Regions from separate parts of the Homo sapiens genome. Here regions 2 and 3 are each reported to be linked to region 1. The links are microRNA targets in miRTarBase. Many come from high-throughput screens and were not tested one by one. Region 1 holds a microRNA gene; each other region holds the end of a gene's coding sequence. Distances are from middle to middle.
Evidence for each region. Region 1 holds the annotated microRNA hsa-miR-4632-3p (UGCCGCCCUCUCGCUGCUCUAG, at 1,358-1,379, opposite strand). A microRNA usually pairs through its seed, bases 2 to 8, with sites in the 3' UTR of a target mRNA and lowers its output. Matches are read on the target gene's strand: a 7mer-m8 pairs with bases 2 to 8, a 7mer-A1 pairs with bases 2 to 7 and ends in A, and an 8mer does both.

Region 2: miRTarBase lists AGRN as a target of hsa-miR-4632-3p. Seed matches in the 3' UTR shown: 7mer-m8 at 3,345-3,351.
Region 3: miRTarBase lists MEX3D as a target of hsa-miR-4632-3p. Seed matches in the 3' UTR shown: 7mer-m8 at 4,660-4,666.

The regions. Positions count from the first base shown.
Region 1 is chr1:12,188,131-12,193,130 of GRCh38, reverse strand. It overlaps MIR4632 (microRNA 4632), which reads right to left and starts at 1,418; the gene lies at 1,358-1,418. TNFRSF1B (TNF receptor superfamily member 1B) reads right to left here. Exons shown (of 10, transcript NM_001066.3): 2 at 4,236-4,335; 3 at 2,046-2,174; 4 at 1,208-1,357; 5 at 607-700; 6 at 33-268. RefSeq lists enhancers at 862-1,413, 3,760-4,297.
Region 2 is chr1:1,054,308-1,059,380 of GRCh38, reverse strand. It overlaps AGRN (agrin), which reads right to left. Exons shown (of 36, transcript NM_198576.4): 35 at 4,830-4,933; 36 at 3,265-4,557. The coding sequence ends at 4,400. Among named protein-coding and RNA genes, the nearest start is that of RNF223, 17 kb to the left of the region's middle. RefSeq lists silencers at 1-69, 4,764-4,946 and an enhancer at 1-656.
Region 3 is chr19:1,550,769-1,555,841 of GRCh38, forward strand. MEX3D (mex-3 RNA binding family member D) reads right to left here. Exons shown (of 2, transcript NM_203304.4): 2 at 3,904-5,073. The coding sequence ends at 4,795. Among named protein-coding and RNA genes, the nearest start is that of MEX3D, 15 kb to the right of the region's middle.

The DNA.
Region 1 (5,000 bases):
GGAGTGAATGAATGAGACTTCTTGCGACTTACCAACTGGAAGAGCGAAGTCGCCAGTGCTCCCTTCAGCTGGGGGGCTGGGGCCCATTGGGAGCAGGAAGGAGGTGCTTGGAGCAGTGCTGGGTTCTGGAGTTGGCTGCGTGTGTTGGGATCGTGTGGACACTGGCTGGGGTAAGTGTACTGCCCCTGGGGCCATACTCCGGGTGGGGGACGTGGACGTGCAGACTGCATCCATGCTTGCATTCCCAGGGATGGCCACCACGTTACAGCTGGAGGAGGAGGAGGCTTGGTCAGGAGGCAGCAGGGGACAGAGTGGCTGGGGTGGCTGGGCTCATTCACGGGCCCCAGCAGGCAGGATAGGAGAGTGACGATGTGTGCCCTCTCTGAGGACCACCCCCTCCTAGCCCTCCCCCACCTCCCCATGCACCCACCCAGTCCTGCCTTCCAGGGCAAGGTCCTGCCCACCATGCCATTTATCCTGGGAGCCACCCTCAGATAAAGCAGTCTGGACAATGGTGGTTGGTGAGCTGCTCTGTGTCCTGGACCCACAGTCACCCAGGGACAGCCCCTCCCTGCTCCTCCAGAACCAAAGGACTCAGCTACTCACATCTGGTGGGGCCTGCAAATATCCGTGGATGAAGTCGTGTTGGAGAACGTCCCCGGGGCACAGGGCTTGCACACCACGTCTGATGTTTCAGTTCCTTCAGGGAACAATCCGAACTTGTCAACCACTCAGACACTCTGCGGGACAGCTGGGCCTTGGCACTAGAGCCCTAGGAGAGGTCTGAGGGGCCCAAGGAGCTCTGTCTGCACCTCCACCCCTTACACACACACACACACACACACACACACACAGATGCCTGTACACACATGCACACACACAGATTCCTGTACACACATGCACGGGATTGGGCTGTAGAGTTATGTGAGTTCATCTTGCAGCATCACATAACTTTCCTAGCTTAGGGCTTGGTCTGATCCATCTCTGGGTCTCCTGGTTCCAGTACATAAGAGGTGCCTAATCGGGAGTGCTGGCAGGAAGAATGAACGGTGGACAGGTGGACAGACGGATGGGTAGCAGGCACCTGGCCACCACTAACAGTGCTCCCTGCTGGACTAATTAATGGGTTGATGCCCGTGACACTGCAAGGATGTCTACAAAGGAGAGGCCCATGGGCGTCCCCAAGGACCTGAGCCCCACCCCGTACCTGGTCTGGCCACGCCGAAGCCCGGGCGGCACTTGCGCAGCGGCGCGCACAGCCGGCACCCCTCCTGCTTGCTCAGCGCGCAGTACCAGCCGGGCCTGCAGGTGCAGATGCGGTTCTGTTCCCGAGTGCAGGCTTGAGTTTCCACCTGGTCTAGAGCAGCGAGAGGGCGGCAAACGGTCACGCCTGCCTCCGCCACACCCACGCTGCCCTCCCAGACAGCCCAGCACTCTCAGACAGCGGATCTCCAGGAGGCTGGCGGACCGCCTCAGCATGGGGCACACACAACACCGGCCAGAGTCCAGGGGCAGGACCGGCAGTCCTGCTACTCTCCGCAGTCCCGCTACTCTCCGCAGTCCCGCTACTCTCCGCAGTCCTGCTCGTCCCCCGCAGTCGCGCTCGTCCCCCGCAGTCCCGCTCCTCCCCGAAGTCCCGCTCCTCCCCACAGTCCCGCTCCTCCCTGCAGTCCTGCTCCTCCCCGCAGTGCCGCTCCTCCCCGAAGTCCCGCTCTTCCCCGCAGTCCCGCTCTTCCCAGCAGTTTCGCTCCTCCCCGCAGTCCTGCTCCTCGCAGCACGAGCATGCGCACCACTCTCCCACGCACCACCTCCTCAACCCTCACGTGGGCACAGTTCTCCCACCGCCTGCCCCGTGGGGCTGTGAAGAGGCTTTGGTGAGACAGAGGAGGAAAATGCCAGTGGTAGGGGTAAACAGCTGCACCTGTGCCACTTCCAACAACCAGCCTGGGGTAACTCCAGACAGCTGGAAGCCAAAGAGGCTGGAGTTGCCGGGGGAAGTTGGAGGCAGGGGTGTAAGGGCCCCCTTTTTCTCTGAACCTACTCACCAGAGCTACAGCGGGAGCCACAGCTCAAGCACTCGGGAACCCAGTTCCAGAGCTGGGTGTATGTGCTGTCCTCACAGGAGTCACACACGGTGTCCGAGGTCTTGGTACAGAAGACTTTTGCATGTTGGCCTGAGGAAACAAGGGCCAGAGGTCTCAGCTGGGCGAGCCTTCTGCCAGGACCCTGGGCTCATCCACTGTCCCCACAAAGTCCAGAGTTCTAAAGCCCAGCTGGGAAGGCTATTCTGTGGAGTTCCAATTCCTCAGAATCATCTCCCATCTAGTATTGTACCAGCTATCACGTCATTTCTGAACCCCTTCTGCTCAAAAATAGATTCCTCTCTGCTCTTTCCAGATGCTTGAACCTCCACCACTGGAGCCCTATTATCAGTCAATCACACTTTAGTAAGAACTAGCTTGCCAGTTTCTTCCTTCTTGATAGATGGCTAATATTCTCCAGCTAGGGGCATGAATGATAGGGGGAACAGGTAGTAAGAATGTAGTCCCTGGTATCCTATCAAGGACAAGGGCATGGGCCTGGAAAGCAGGCATTCCAGGGACAGAGAACACCAACGGAAACCTTAAAAAAAAGTTGACTCAGTAGCTGCTTTTTTTTTTTTTTTTTTTTTTGAGACAGAATCTCACTCTGTGGCCCAGGCTAGAGTGCAGTGGCACAATCTCGGCTCACTGCAACCTCTGCCTCTCAGGCTCAAGCAATTCTCCTGCCTCAGCCTCCCAAGTAGCTGGGATTACAGGTGCCTGCCATTATGCCCAGCTATTTTTTTGTATTCTTAGTAGAGACGGGTTCCACCATGTTGGCCAGGCTGGTCTCAAACTCCTGGCCTCCGGTGGTCCGCCCACCTCAGCCTCTCTAGTAACTTCTTAAAGAGACCCTTCCAGTTAATAAAAGAAAGAAGAGAGTCACTTTCCCTAGGATGTCTTAAAATGGCTAGGGACGGTGACAGGTACTCATATGCCCACCTACATCTCAAGGTAACGGCTCAAAGCCCTCCATTGGCTCCCAGACAGAATAAAATCTAAACTCCTTACCATGGTCCCTGCTCACTCCTTCCTCCTCCTCCCCTACCGTACTCGCCTTCGCTCATCCTGGGCCACACATGCTGGCCCTGCTGTTCCTCCAACTCACCAAACAGGCTCCGACTTCAAGGCCTTCGCACATGCTGTTGCTTCCTCCTGGCACACTGTTCCCTGTATACATGCATGACCTGCTCCCTCACCTCCTGCAGGGCTCTGCCCAAATGTCACCTCCTCAGAGAGACCTTCCCAGACCACCCTGTGTAAAACAGTATGTCCCGTTCTGTCTCCCCCGCCTTACCTGACCTTGTCTTTCTACAGCACTTACAGATAGACAGGACCACACATCTCCTAATGTATCTGTCTGCATCCACCGTTAAAATGCAGACTCCACGAGGGCAAGGGTTTTGTCTGCCCTGCTCTCTGTGTATTCCCAGCACTTAGAACACACAGCAGATACCTTATAATCATGACATGAATGAATACAGACACAAATGAATAGATGGAGGGCACCAGGAGTCAGGCTACCTAGCTCCACCAACTGTGGCTGGGCCTCAGGTCTACCATCTGTGAAATGGGTAAGCATTCACAGAGTCAGTCAAATATGCACTGAGCACCTACATGGCATTGCGCCACGTGCTGGGGATTCAGCAGAAAACAAGCCACAATCTCTGCCCTAGAGGAGCACACAGTGGAGGCAACAGGAAGCAGGACCGGGCTATAATCCCACAGCAAGGAAAGAGCTTCCATGGGAACATCAGAGGCCAGTGAGAGCTCAAAGGAGGCAGCACTTGTCTTTCAAGCTGAGTGCTGCCTCCTCCAGGCAGCCCTCCCTGACTCCCCCAGGAGCTAATTTAGGCTCCTCCTCCCCCTCCTCCACCGGCTGGGCAGTATGGGGCAGGCAGCCTTCCTGGAAGAGGGGACATCTTCAGCTGAGGTCTAAAGGGCAAGTTGGAGTTAATCAGGGAAAGGGAGTTGGGAAGTGTGCCAGGAAGAGGGAACAGCATGTTCACAGGCCCAGAAGCAGCAGGGAGCATGGGCCAGTGCATAGAACTAGGAGTTCAGTAAGAATCAAGGGCTATGCTCTTGCGCCCCAGCCCCTGTACACACACGCTCCTCCAGGGCATGGGCCCCGAGTGCCCCCGTGGCTGCCCTCACCCGGCGAGCATTTGCTGCAGCACATCTGAGCTGTCTGGTCATAGTATTCTCTGAGCCGGCATGTGCTCCCGGGCTCCGGGGCGTAGGGTGTAAATGCCACCTGGAAGGAAGAAGGGAAGACTGCCATCAACAGGGCCGCCCCTGGGTTCTGCCATGCCTGATGCCCAGGTCCCCGCCCTGCAAATGTTTGGCCCTCCCCCTGCCAGTCTGCACTGATGATGGCTGGGGAGGTTTCTCCCCCTGGAGCAGGGTACAGGAAGGAGAGCTCGTGCCTTCTTTTACCTCCCCTGCCTCCCCACCTCAGTGTACCCTAGTCATGTCTGCAGGCAGAAGCACTGACTCTGCTGGCCTTCTCCAGTGCTGGGTGACCCCTAACACTGCATGGGACAGATATCCAGAAGACAGTGGCCTTGGTCACAGAGAACGGGGGTTCTCAGCACAAAGCTGCCCTCTGCTGAGGAAGGAAGATACCTCTCCTTCCCTCCTGCACCTGAAACATCCCTTTGTCTTTCAAGATGAGTGCTGCCACCTCTGGGAAGCCCTCCCTGACTACCCAAGGCTAATTCAAGCTCCTCCTCCTCCTCCTCTCGGCTCTCTCTAAACGTGGGTTATGACCCCTCTAACAGTCATCTCATTGTTCTGGAATGGTTACTTGCTTGTCCTTCCACCCCCTGTGGGTATGTATGCACACACATGTGTACACACACACTCATGTGATGCAGACAGCAGAGGTGGCAGCCTTGTCATCTCTAGACCCTCAATCTC
Region 2 (5,073 bases), 11 Mb from region 1:
CCGCGGGACCGACCTCCCTGGCTGTGCCGCGTCCGCCTCCCTGTAGGTCCCAGCCCCAGGCCCGCCGGTTTCCGGAGTCGAGCTCCCACCGCGGTCTGTCCCGGACACGCGCGCCTCTCCCTCGCCTGCGCTCAGCTGCCATCCTTTTCAGCGGTGGCCCCGGGCTCCCCTGGGCTTCGCCTCTCAGACCCACAGCCTCCAACCTGGGACCCACCAGCGCCTCTCCGCCCGCGCGGCTTCCCTCCTCCTCACCCCCGGCCACGGAAGGCCTCGTCACCCTCCAGGTCCCCTTTGAGTCCTCTGGGTCCTGCGCGCTCCGCAGCGGTTGCTCCCCAAACTGCCTCTCCTGGTTCTGCGCACCCTCCTCCTCCCCTCCGAGGTCCTCCTCCCTCCTCCATTTCTGGCGTCGGGGCTTTTTCTCCTCTCCTAGGCAACACCCAGCAGGAGCACCTGCCTCAGGCTTCAGCCCAGCCTCTCCCTGCCTGGCACCCCTCGGCCCCCTGGACCCCACTCAGGGAACCCCAGCTTCCCCAGCCCAGCCATCCCTCCAGACGCATCAGGGCGAATCCACCCAAAGCTCCGGTGCCTCCAGCTCCATCTCCACGTCCCTGAGCGCCTCTTCTCACCCCCCTCGACCCGCCCATTCTCCCCCAAATCCCTCCCTCTGCTCCCCCTGCAGCCTAGCACCCTGTCCTAGCCAGGGGCGTCTTCATGAAATCTGGTGGCCTCCTGCTTGGAGCCCTCCAGGAGCCTCCCACAGCTCCTCAGGCAGCACCCCCAGCTCTCTTCCCCAGGCCCACGCAGCCCCACTGGACCTGCCCTGCCCATCTCTGTCCAGCCTCTGCTGCTCTGACCTGTGGCCTCTGTCCTGCACGCTGGCCTCTGGCCGCTCCTACGCCTCCGCTTCCTGCTGAAAGATCCCTTTGTCAAGCCACAGGGCCCTGCACACCGTCCAATGGACCCACACCACATGCCCCGCCTCTGGCCTCCTCACCTGCCCTCCCCCTGCTCATGCTTCGGGTCTGGGTTTGGGCGTGTTTTCTCTGGACCTTTCCTGAAAACCAAAGTTAGTCTGCCCCCACCCTGGCCCCCCACCGTCAGCGACCTGTGTGTGGCCACCGCTCCTGGACTCTCTCCTCCCCGACCCCCAGTGCCTGACACCTGCCAGGCACACAGGGTCGGTCAGCATATCCCCAGAGGACCAGGTGATGAAAAGCCCAGAAAGCAAACACTCAGACGCATGGGACCTCCTGGGTGTGGAGCTTGTGGGTATTATCTTTTCATTTTTTTTTTGAAACGGAGTCGCGCTCTGTCGCCCACGCTGGAGTGCAGTGGTGCAATCGCGGCTCACTGCAACCTCCGCCTCCCGGGTTCAAGCGATTCTCGTGCCTCAGCCTCCCGAGTAACTGGGATTACAGATACCTGCCACCACGCCCAGATGTTTGTGTTTTTAGTAGATACAGGGTTTCACCATGTTGGCCAGTCTGGTGTTGAACTCCTGACCTCAGGTGATCCGCCTGCCTCAGCCTCCCAAAGTGCTGGGATTATAGGCATGAGCCAATGTGCCCAGCCATTGGTGTTATTTTATTTCGATGTTTTTGTGGTTTTCTTTTTTCTTTTTTTTTTTGAGACGGAGTCTCCTTCAGCCACTGAGGCTGGAGTGCAATGGCGTGATCTCGGCTCACTGCAACCACCGTCTCCTGGGTTCAAGCAATTCTCCCGTCTCAGCCTCCGGAGTAGCTGGGACTACAGGCACCCACCATCATGCCCAGCCAGTTTTTGTATTTTAGGAGAGACAGGGTTTCACCATGTTGGCCAGGCTCGTCTTGAACTCCTGACCTCAGGTGATCCACCCGCCTCGGCCTCCCAAAGTGCTAGGATTACAGGTGTGAGCCAGCGCACCTGGCTTTTTTTTTAAAATCATTAATACAAAATAGAAAACTACACTTAGTTATTTTTCATAAGAGACAGCAGTTTGCGAAGGGCCACCCAGCTGGCCACACACCCTACCCCTTCTTCCCCTGCTTCTCCCCAGGGCTCACATCTGCCGGTGCTGGGTGCCAGCTCTGTTTTTTAGACAGGTTCTCGCTCTGTCACCCAGGCTGGAGTGCAGTGGTGCAATCACAGCTTGCTGCTGCCTCAACCTCCTGGATTCAAGTGATCCTCCTGCCTCAGCCTCCGGAGTAGCTGGAGCTACAGGTGTGTACCACCACGCCTGGCTAATTAAAGAAATTTTTTTGCAGAGATGGGGTCTCACTATGTTGCCCAAGCTGATCTCCCACTCTTGGCCTCAAGCGATCCTCCAGCCTCAGCCTCCCAAAGTGCTGGGATGACAGGTGTGAGCCACCGCGCCCTTCCCTGAGGCTCAGCTTCTGCAGTGCTGTCACCCACACACTAATTTAGGAAGCAGGTTAGAGGGAGTCCAGGAGCCCAGCTACCCCAGGGGTTTCTAGTTAGGGGCTTCCAGCAGTGCCAAGGGTTGGTTCTGCACACCTGGGCCAGTGAAAAGGCTGCCCAACAGCCCCACGCACCCTGGCTCCCCCCAGACCCTTCCAGTCCTGGGTGCAGCCTCCTCCCAACCCTGTGCTCTGACACAGATGTGGGCCAATTATGTGTGCAGGCACACACACACACACACACACGTGCACGCCAGAGAGCAGGCACACACACCCACACATACACGCCGGAGAGCAGGCACACGCACCCACACACGTACATGCACCCACACATGCACGCCGGAGAGCAAGCACACGCACCCACACGCACACGCACCCACACATACACGCCGGAGAGCAGGCACACGCACCCACACACACGTACATGCACCCATACATGCACGCCGGAGAGCAGGCACACGCACCCACACCCACACGTACCCACACGTGCACGCCAGAGAGCAGGCACACGCACCCACACGCACATGCACCCACACGTACCCGCACCCACACGTACCCGCACCCACACGTGCACGCCAGAGAGCAGGCACATGCACCCACACGTACCCGCACCCACACACACACACCCCCACACGTACACGCACCCACACGTGCACGCCAGAGAGCCTCCTGCCTCCACGGCCCCGCCTCCCACAGTGCTCAGCAGTGTGTGCTCCCCACTCAGGGCCTCATCAGCCACAAGGATCCCTGTGCAGGGCCTGGCTCCATCCAGGGCCACCCAAGGGAGCTCCAAGTCCGTGCTCCCACCACAAAGCGGAGCAAGAAGCCAACGGGCCAGCGCGCTGGTGAGGATGGACAAAAGCAATGCTTTTAAAGTTTTCAGACTTTATTTCACAGCGATTGACACAGAAACATACTAGAGTTAGTAACACGGCACCCAGCCCCACCGCCGCCCGCTTCATCGGGTCCTGCTCCTAGGAGGACTGGGCTGGGGCTGGGGGTGGGGATGGGATGGGGGTGGGGAAGGGACGGGACGTTGCAGTTTAAGGCATTTCTGGCTTCGGAGCCATCCCTGCCACCTCTGCACCTGCCCCTTGACCTTGGTCAGACACTGGCTGGCCCCTGGTCATTCTGAGACAAGGACGACTTTCACTGACGCTGTGGGGAGGATTTGCAGTGAGGCAGCCCTCAGCCGCTCTCAGGCGAGATGGGAAAGATGAGACCCACCACTCCAGGGGTCAAATAAAATCAACACATGAAGAACACAGCCATGGCCAGGCCCAGATACCCAGGCAGGCGGCAGAGGTCAACCCCATCCCACAGTGAGCTCCTCTCGATAGCCCCTCGCAGGGCCTGGGGTGTGGCAGAGGGATACGGTCACGTCCAGGGTGGCTGGGCAGGGCCAGCTGAGGGTCAGGACACCCAGATCGGCCCTGGTCTGGCCTCTGCTCCTCAGCAGCCTGGGGCTGGCGCAGGCAGCACGGGAGCAACGCAGAGCTGTGCCCAGCAGTAACATTGTTTGGAAGTCACAGTATTGGCGCAGGAGGCCGAGGCAGGGCCCAGAGCACACACAGGAAGGAGCAGCTCAAATGGGGGCTTGGAAAGGCCCTGTGGGGTCACCCGGAGGAAGGGCCCCATCAGACCTCAGCAGCCCCTTCCTCTCTGGGACACGAGTCCCGCCTGACGGAGCGAGGGTGATTCAGGAGCCGGGGCTGCTTCCCGGCGGGGACACCGTGGGGCAGGCGCAGTGCAAGGCGGGGGCTCAGCACCTTGAGGCAGGGGTGTGTGTCCTGAGGCTGCCATCCACGCCGAGCCCTCCACGCTGCCACCTCGCCTGTCCATCCCTCGGCACTAGGTCTGTCTGCAGCACGGCTGCCTGGACGGAAGGGAGGCCGGGCCAGCAGTCCCTCCGGCCAACACTCAGGCAAGAAAATCATATCAAAAAGCAACAAGTTTACAAAAATAGAAAATAATTACAGCGGGCGCGGGGCTCTGGTGCCAGCTCATGGGGTGGGGCAGGGCCGCAGCTCTGGCTTGGTGACGGCGTCCTCCAGCAGGTGCAGCGGGTGCCGGCCCACCACCACGTCCCGCAAGCAGCCCACAAAGCCTGTGCCGTAGGCCTTGGGCAGTGCTGGGCCCACGGGCAGCTCCGGCAGGCCCCCTGCAGCACAGACAGTGGGAGTCACCCGGCTGTGACTCAGTGATGCTGATGGGCACCCCAACGAGCAGGTGACCAGCAGGGGGCCCACACCTGGGCACCCGCCTCCCGGCCCCACAGCACTGGGAACTGCAGGGGCTACAGCGGGAGAAGAGAGCCCAGCCCGCCGGCTCACATGCACCCTGACTCAAGGGTGGGCGCTGGGGGGTGGAGTCTGTCCCTCGGATATCATGAGACCCTTGGGCATCCCTCTCTAGTCTCCCCAAAACACTCACCAAGCCACAGGGCTCCATCAGTGTCCAGCTGCGTGGCGCCCAGCGGGGAGGAGCCGGTCACAGGGGCCTCATTGCCCACCTGCAGGGAACCTTCCCTCTGCTCCCTGGGTGTGCAGGGAGGGGGAGACCATCAGGGCCCAGAGTTCCCTCTGCCTCCTCTAGACCATAAGCCCTGCATCCTTCCTATGCCCTGCAGGTGCCTCAGCCTGGAGAACCCCCGAGGTATCACCCCTGGGGGCAAGGA
Region 3 (5,073 bases), not on the chromosome of region 1:
GCACGGTCTCTACCCTGGGGACATCCCAAGGGACACACGGTGTGTGGATGGTGCGTTCTTCCCACCAAGGGACACAAAATGTGTGGGTGGTGTATCCTTCCCACGTGGAGCCTACAGATGGGAGAACCACAGCCCTGCCCCTCAGTGTCCCCCGTGTCTGATGAGACCTGGAACAGGGGATTTTCAGCAGACATTGGACTAGGGTCACCCCACCATGCCAAGTCCATGAGTCAAAGGAGGTGAATGACAATAGCAATGAGACTTTGTGCCCAGGACACAGGCCAGGCCTCAGCCCTTGGCTTCCCTGAGCTGTGCCGAGACATGGAGAGGCCAATGCATGGGATCCTTGCTTTGCCATTGCTGCCCAGCCCCTCTAGAAAATTCTTCCAGCTCCTTGGTCAGAAATGTGGTCCCTGTAGGTGGTTAGAGTTTCAGTTGTTCCAACTGCTATTAGCTCTGATGATGGAAAGGTTGGCATGGAAAAGTTGGCTTTCAGGCACAGCTGGATCCAGGGCCTCGTGCAGCAACTTTAAGAATCCAGACTGGACCGGATGCAGTGTCTCATGCCTGTAACCCCAGCACTGTGGGAGGCTGGGGCGGGCGGATCACTTGAGGCCAGGAATTCGAGACCTGCTTGGGCAACATGAAGAATCCCCGTCTCTACAAAATATACAAAAATTTAAAAATATACAAAAAATTAGCTAGGCATGATGGTATGTGCCTGTGGTCCCAACTACTAGGGAGGCTGAGGTGGGAAGATCGTTGCAGTCCAGGAGGTCAAGGCTGCTGTGAGTTATGATTGCACCACCACACTCCAGACAGGGCAACAGAGCAAGACCTTGTCTCTTAAAAAAACAAAAACAGAATCCATCTCTGGCCATCTCTTGTGCTGTGCCCAAAGGCCACAGACACTTCAGACTCTCATGTGCCAGCTGAGCAACCCTGCAGTGGGAGTGAGCTCATCCCTCGGATGTCTCCGGAAGTCCTGGGACCAGCATGGTGACACCCCTGGCCCCTGGCTGGGGGGCCTCAGCTCCTCTATATCACTACATCAGAAACGCCTAGAGCAGGTCCTGGCCAGTCTAGACTTGGGCCCTGCCCTGGCGGGTCACCCAGCAGCCTCCCCAAGCTTTGCCATTCCCTTCCGCCGGGCAATTCCCCACCCCACCTCCCAGGGTCTTTGCGCCTAGCTCTGTCATGTCCTCTCTTCTCCCAATTTTTTTTTTTTTTTCGTCGTTGTTGTTGACAGAGTCTTGCTCTGTCACACAGGCTGGAGTGCAGTGGTGTAATCTCGGCTCACTGCAGCCTCAACCTCACTTTGCTCAAGTGATCCTTCCACCTCAGCCTCCCGAGCAGCTGAGACTACAGGTGTGTGCCACCACGTCCAGCTTCCTCCCAGTGTGGAGGTGCCTCTCCTCTCCCCAGCCTCCCCTGCAGTTAGGTGACAAACTGACCCCACTTGGGGCTCCCCGGAAGCAGAGCTGCTCCATGACACCCCCTGAATCCTTGCAGCACCAGACAAAATCATCCCCTTCTGCCCACTCTATCGGAACCCGGGGGCTGCAGGAACCCTCATATCCTTCCAAAAGACTCTCCTCCACCCCTTTGACATTTGTCCCATCTTTGATCCCTCGACCCCTTGGGGGCTGCTCTCATTCTCTCCATGACCCAATTGCAGAGAGGGGAGGGGGGCATCCGCACACCCGCCCCTCCCTGCGGCCTTCTGCAGTCTGGCTGAGGCACGAAGTCAGCCCAGGTCACAGGGTGTGTGGCCTGCAGCCGAACCCAGCCGCTCCGCACAGCTGTGGCCAGACCCAGGTTAACAGTCCCTCCCGGCTGGGCGTGGTGGCTCACACCTGTAATCCCAGCACTTTGGGAGGCCAAGGCAGGTGGATCACGAAGCCAAGAGATTGAGATCATCCTGGACAACTTGGTGAAACCCCATCTCTACTAAAAACACAAAAATTAGCCGGGTGTGGTGGTGGGCACCTGTAATCCCAGCTACTCAGGAGGCTGAGGCAGGAGAATCTCTGGAACCTGGCAGGTGGAGGTTGCAGTGAGTCGAGATCACGCCCGGCTAATTTTTTGTATTTTTGGTAGAGACGGGGTTTCACCGTGTTAGCCACGATGGTCTATGATCTCCTGACCTCGTGATCCACCCACCTTGGCCTCCCAAAGTGCTAGGATTACAGGCGTGAACCACCGCTCCCGGCCCCTCTCCCTCTCTTATAAAAACACTCATGGCCGGGTGCAGTGGCTCACGCCTGTAATCCCAGCACTTTGGGAGGCCGAGGCGGACAGATCACGAGGTCAGGAGATCGAGACCATCCTGGCTAACACGGTGAAACACCGTCTCTACTAAAAATACAAAAAATTAGCCGGGCGTGGCGGCAGGCACCTATAGGCCCAGCTACTCGGGAGGCTGAGGCAGGAGAATGGCGTGAACCCGGGAGGCGGAGCTTGCAGTGAGCCGAGATGGCGCCACTGCACTCCAGCCTGGGCGACAGAGCAAGACTCCGCCTCAAAAACAAAACAAAACCAAACAGAAAAAAAAAAAAAAACAAAAAACACTCATTATTAGATTTAAGGCTTGCTCTAATTCAGGATGATTTCATCTTGAGATCCTTAATTATATCTGCAAAGACCTTTTCCCAAATAAAATCACATTCTCACTTTCTGGGGGACTCCTTATTTTGGTGGGGGGACTCCATTCAACCAATGACACGCCCCTCAGTCTCACCGAGAGGGAGTTTGGGCCTCGAACACCCTGCGTTTTGCGGAGGAGGGAGTTCCAGGCCAGGGGCCTGGGTAGGGCTGGGCTTGAACTCAGGTGTGCGTCTCTGGTGGTTCCTCTCTCCTCCTCGCCTCCTCCTGGAAGCTCTCCAGGCCTCTCTTCCACACGTGCTTCTCTTTCCCTGGTGGGTTCTAAGTCCCAGGCCCCTCCCCAAGGTCCACTCCCCAAGCCTGCAGCCTGTGTGCCCGGCCCCTTCCTTGTCCCCGGAGTGGCCCATCCTGACACCCAGGGGCTTCCTGGCTGTTTTGGGATGGCGCGCTGGGACAGCTCACCATGGGTCCAGCCTGTGGTCTTTTTTTTTTTTTCTTTTTTTTTTTTTTTTGAGACGGAGTCTCACTCTGTCACCCAGGCTGGAGTGCAGTGGTGCAATCTCGGCTCACTACAAGCTCCGTCTCCCGGGTTCACGCCATTCTCCTGCCTCAGCCTCCCAAGTAGCTGGGACCACAGGCGCCCACCACCACGCCCGGCTAATTTTTTTTGTACTTTTAGTAGAGACGCGGTTTCACCGTGTTAGCCAGGATGGTCTCGATCTCCTGACCTCCTGATCCACCTGCCTCGGCCTCCCAAAGTGCTGGGATTACAGGCGAGAGCCACTGCACCCGGCGAGCCTGTGGTCTCAACCCCAGCCCTGAAGAGCTATATCTGGTGGCCCCATGTGTCTGTCATGGCTCCCAGAGCAGTGGGGGGATGACCACGGCTCAAACGTCCTTCACAGACCAGGATGCATCGGGGTCAAACCTGGGACGGGCATTTCCAGGCCTCAGTTTCCCCATCTGCACGACCGCTGGACGGTCTGTTGGGATGGATCCCACACACCCAGAGAGCTGGGCAGATGTCCCTGAGGAAGGACAGCCTGGGTCCCCTTTCTCTGTGGGATCCATGGTTGAACACCCACAGGGATGGGGAGGACCTGAGGTTTGCTCACGGGGAGCCCAGCTAGACCCTCCCCCACAGACCCAATTCCTTCGTCTGGAACAAGGGACAGTGCCTGGTCGGGGTGAGGGCCTGGACCACGGAACTGGGGGGTTGAGGGGCTGGATCCGGGTGTCCCCTGCCCCGGGGTCTCCCCTCCTGGTGCCCATCCCCCACACCACGCTGAAGCCGTGTGCTCACATGTAGAAAAGAGGCTTTATTAAGAAGGCTTTGAAGTCAAAAAATAAAACTCTTGATACAATTTTTTTAACCCTTAAATCAGCTCAGCAAATATATAATCAGTAATTTAGCTGTGTAAGATTAAAGGTCCATTACTTTATTTAAAATAAAATATATTTTAGTTCTTAAAATTTATTCCATAAAGTACATATTTCCCTATAAATTCCCTACATATACACAAGAGGTAAAAAGTAAAAGTAAAAAAAAAAAAAAATTAAAAAAATTTTAAAAATGACAACAGAAACCGCAGTAAAAAGGGGATTAATAATTAACAGAAAGTTAGAAATTTGATTGGAACGCCCCTCGCCCCCGCCCCCCTGCCCCCTCCGGCCGCGCACGGTTGATGTACAAAAGCATAAATGGTTAGCCCCAAAAAGGGAGTAAAAATGTCACCCTCCTCCTCTGGAACGTCTGTGCGGCCTGAGACCGGCCGGCGAGAAAAGTCAAATCAGAAAACGGCTTCGGACGAAAGGAAAAAACGCTGAGCGCTGGAAAAGTCGTGTTTTTTGTTTTGCTTTTTTAAAGATCACCCTGGAGGGGAGGGGTGTCTAAAAATAAGAAAACTAAAAAAAGTGCAAGCGGACCTTTTCTCTCCGGTTTATTGTAACCTGACCACTCAATACTGTCGTTGAAGGGCTGAGGCGCCGCCGGGCTGCGGGGTCTCCGTCTCCACGCCTGAGGCGGCAGTTAAAGCTCATCTGTAAACACTGGCCGCCGCCCACCCCCCTGCCCCCTCGGCCTCCGCCCCTCGCCCCCTCCCCGTCCCTCTCCCACCCCGGGTCCCGCCCCGTCTCCCGCGCCCACCCCTGGCCCCCGCAGATGGCCCCGGCCACGTGGTGGTCCGCGCTCTAGGAAAAGATATGAATGGCCTGGGTGGCCGGCGTGCGGCAGGCGGGACACTCGGGCTCGCTCTTGCCGCAGATGCGGACGGCGCAGTCCATGCAGAAGAGGTTGTGGCCGCAGGGGACCAGCGCAGCCATCACCTCGCCCTCGGCGCACACCACGCACTCTCGCGCCAGGGCCGGGGCCGAGGACGCCGAAGGGGGCTTGCGGCTGTTCTCGGAGGCGCCGGAGTCCAGGGGGGCGCAGGCGGCGGCCGCGGGGCTGCTGGGCAGCGAGGTGGCCGT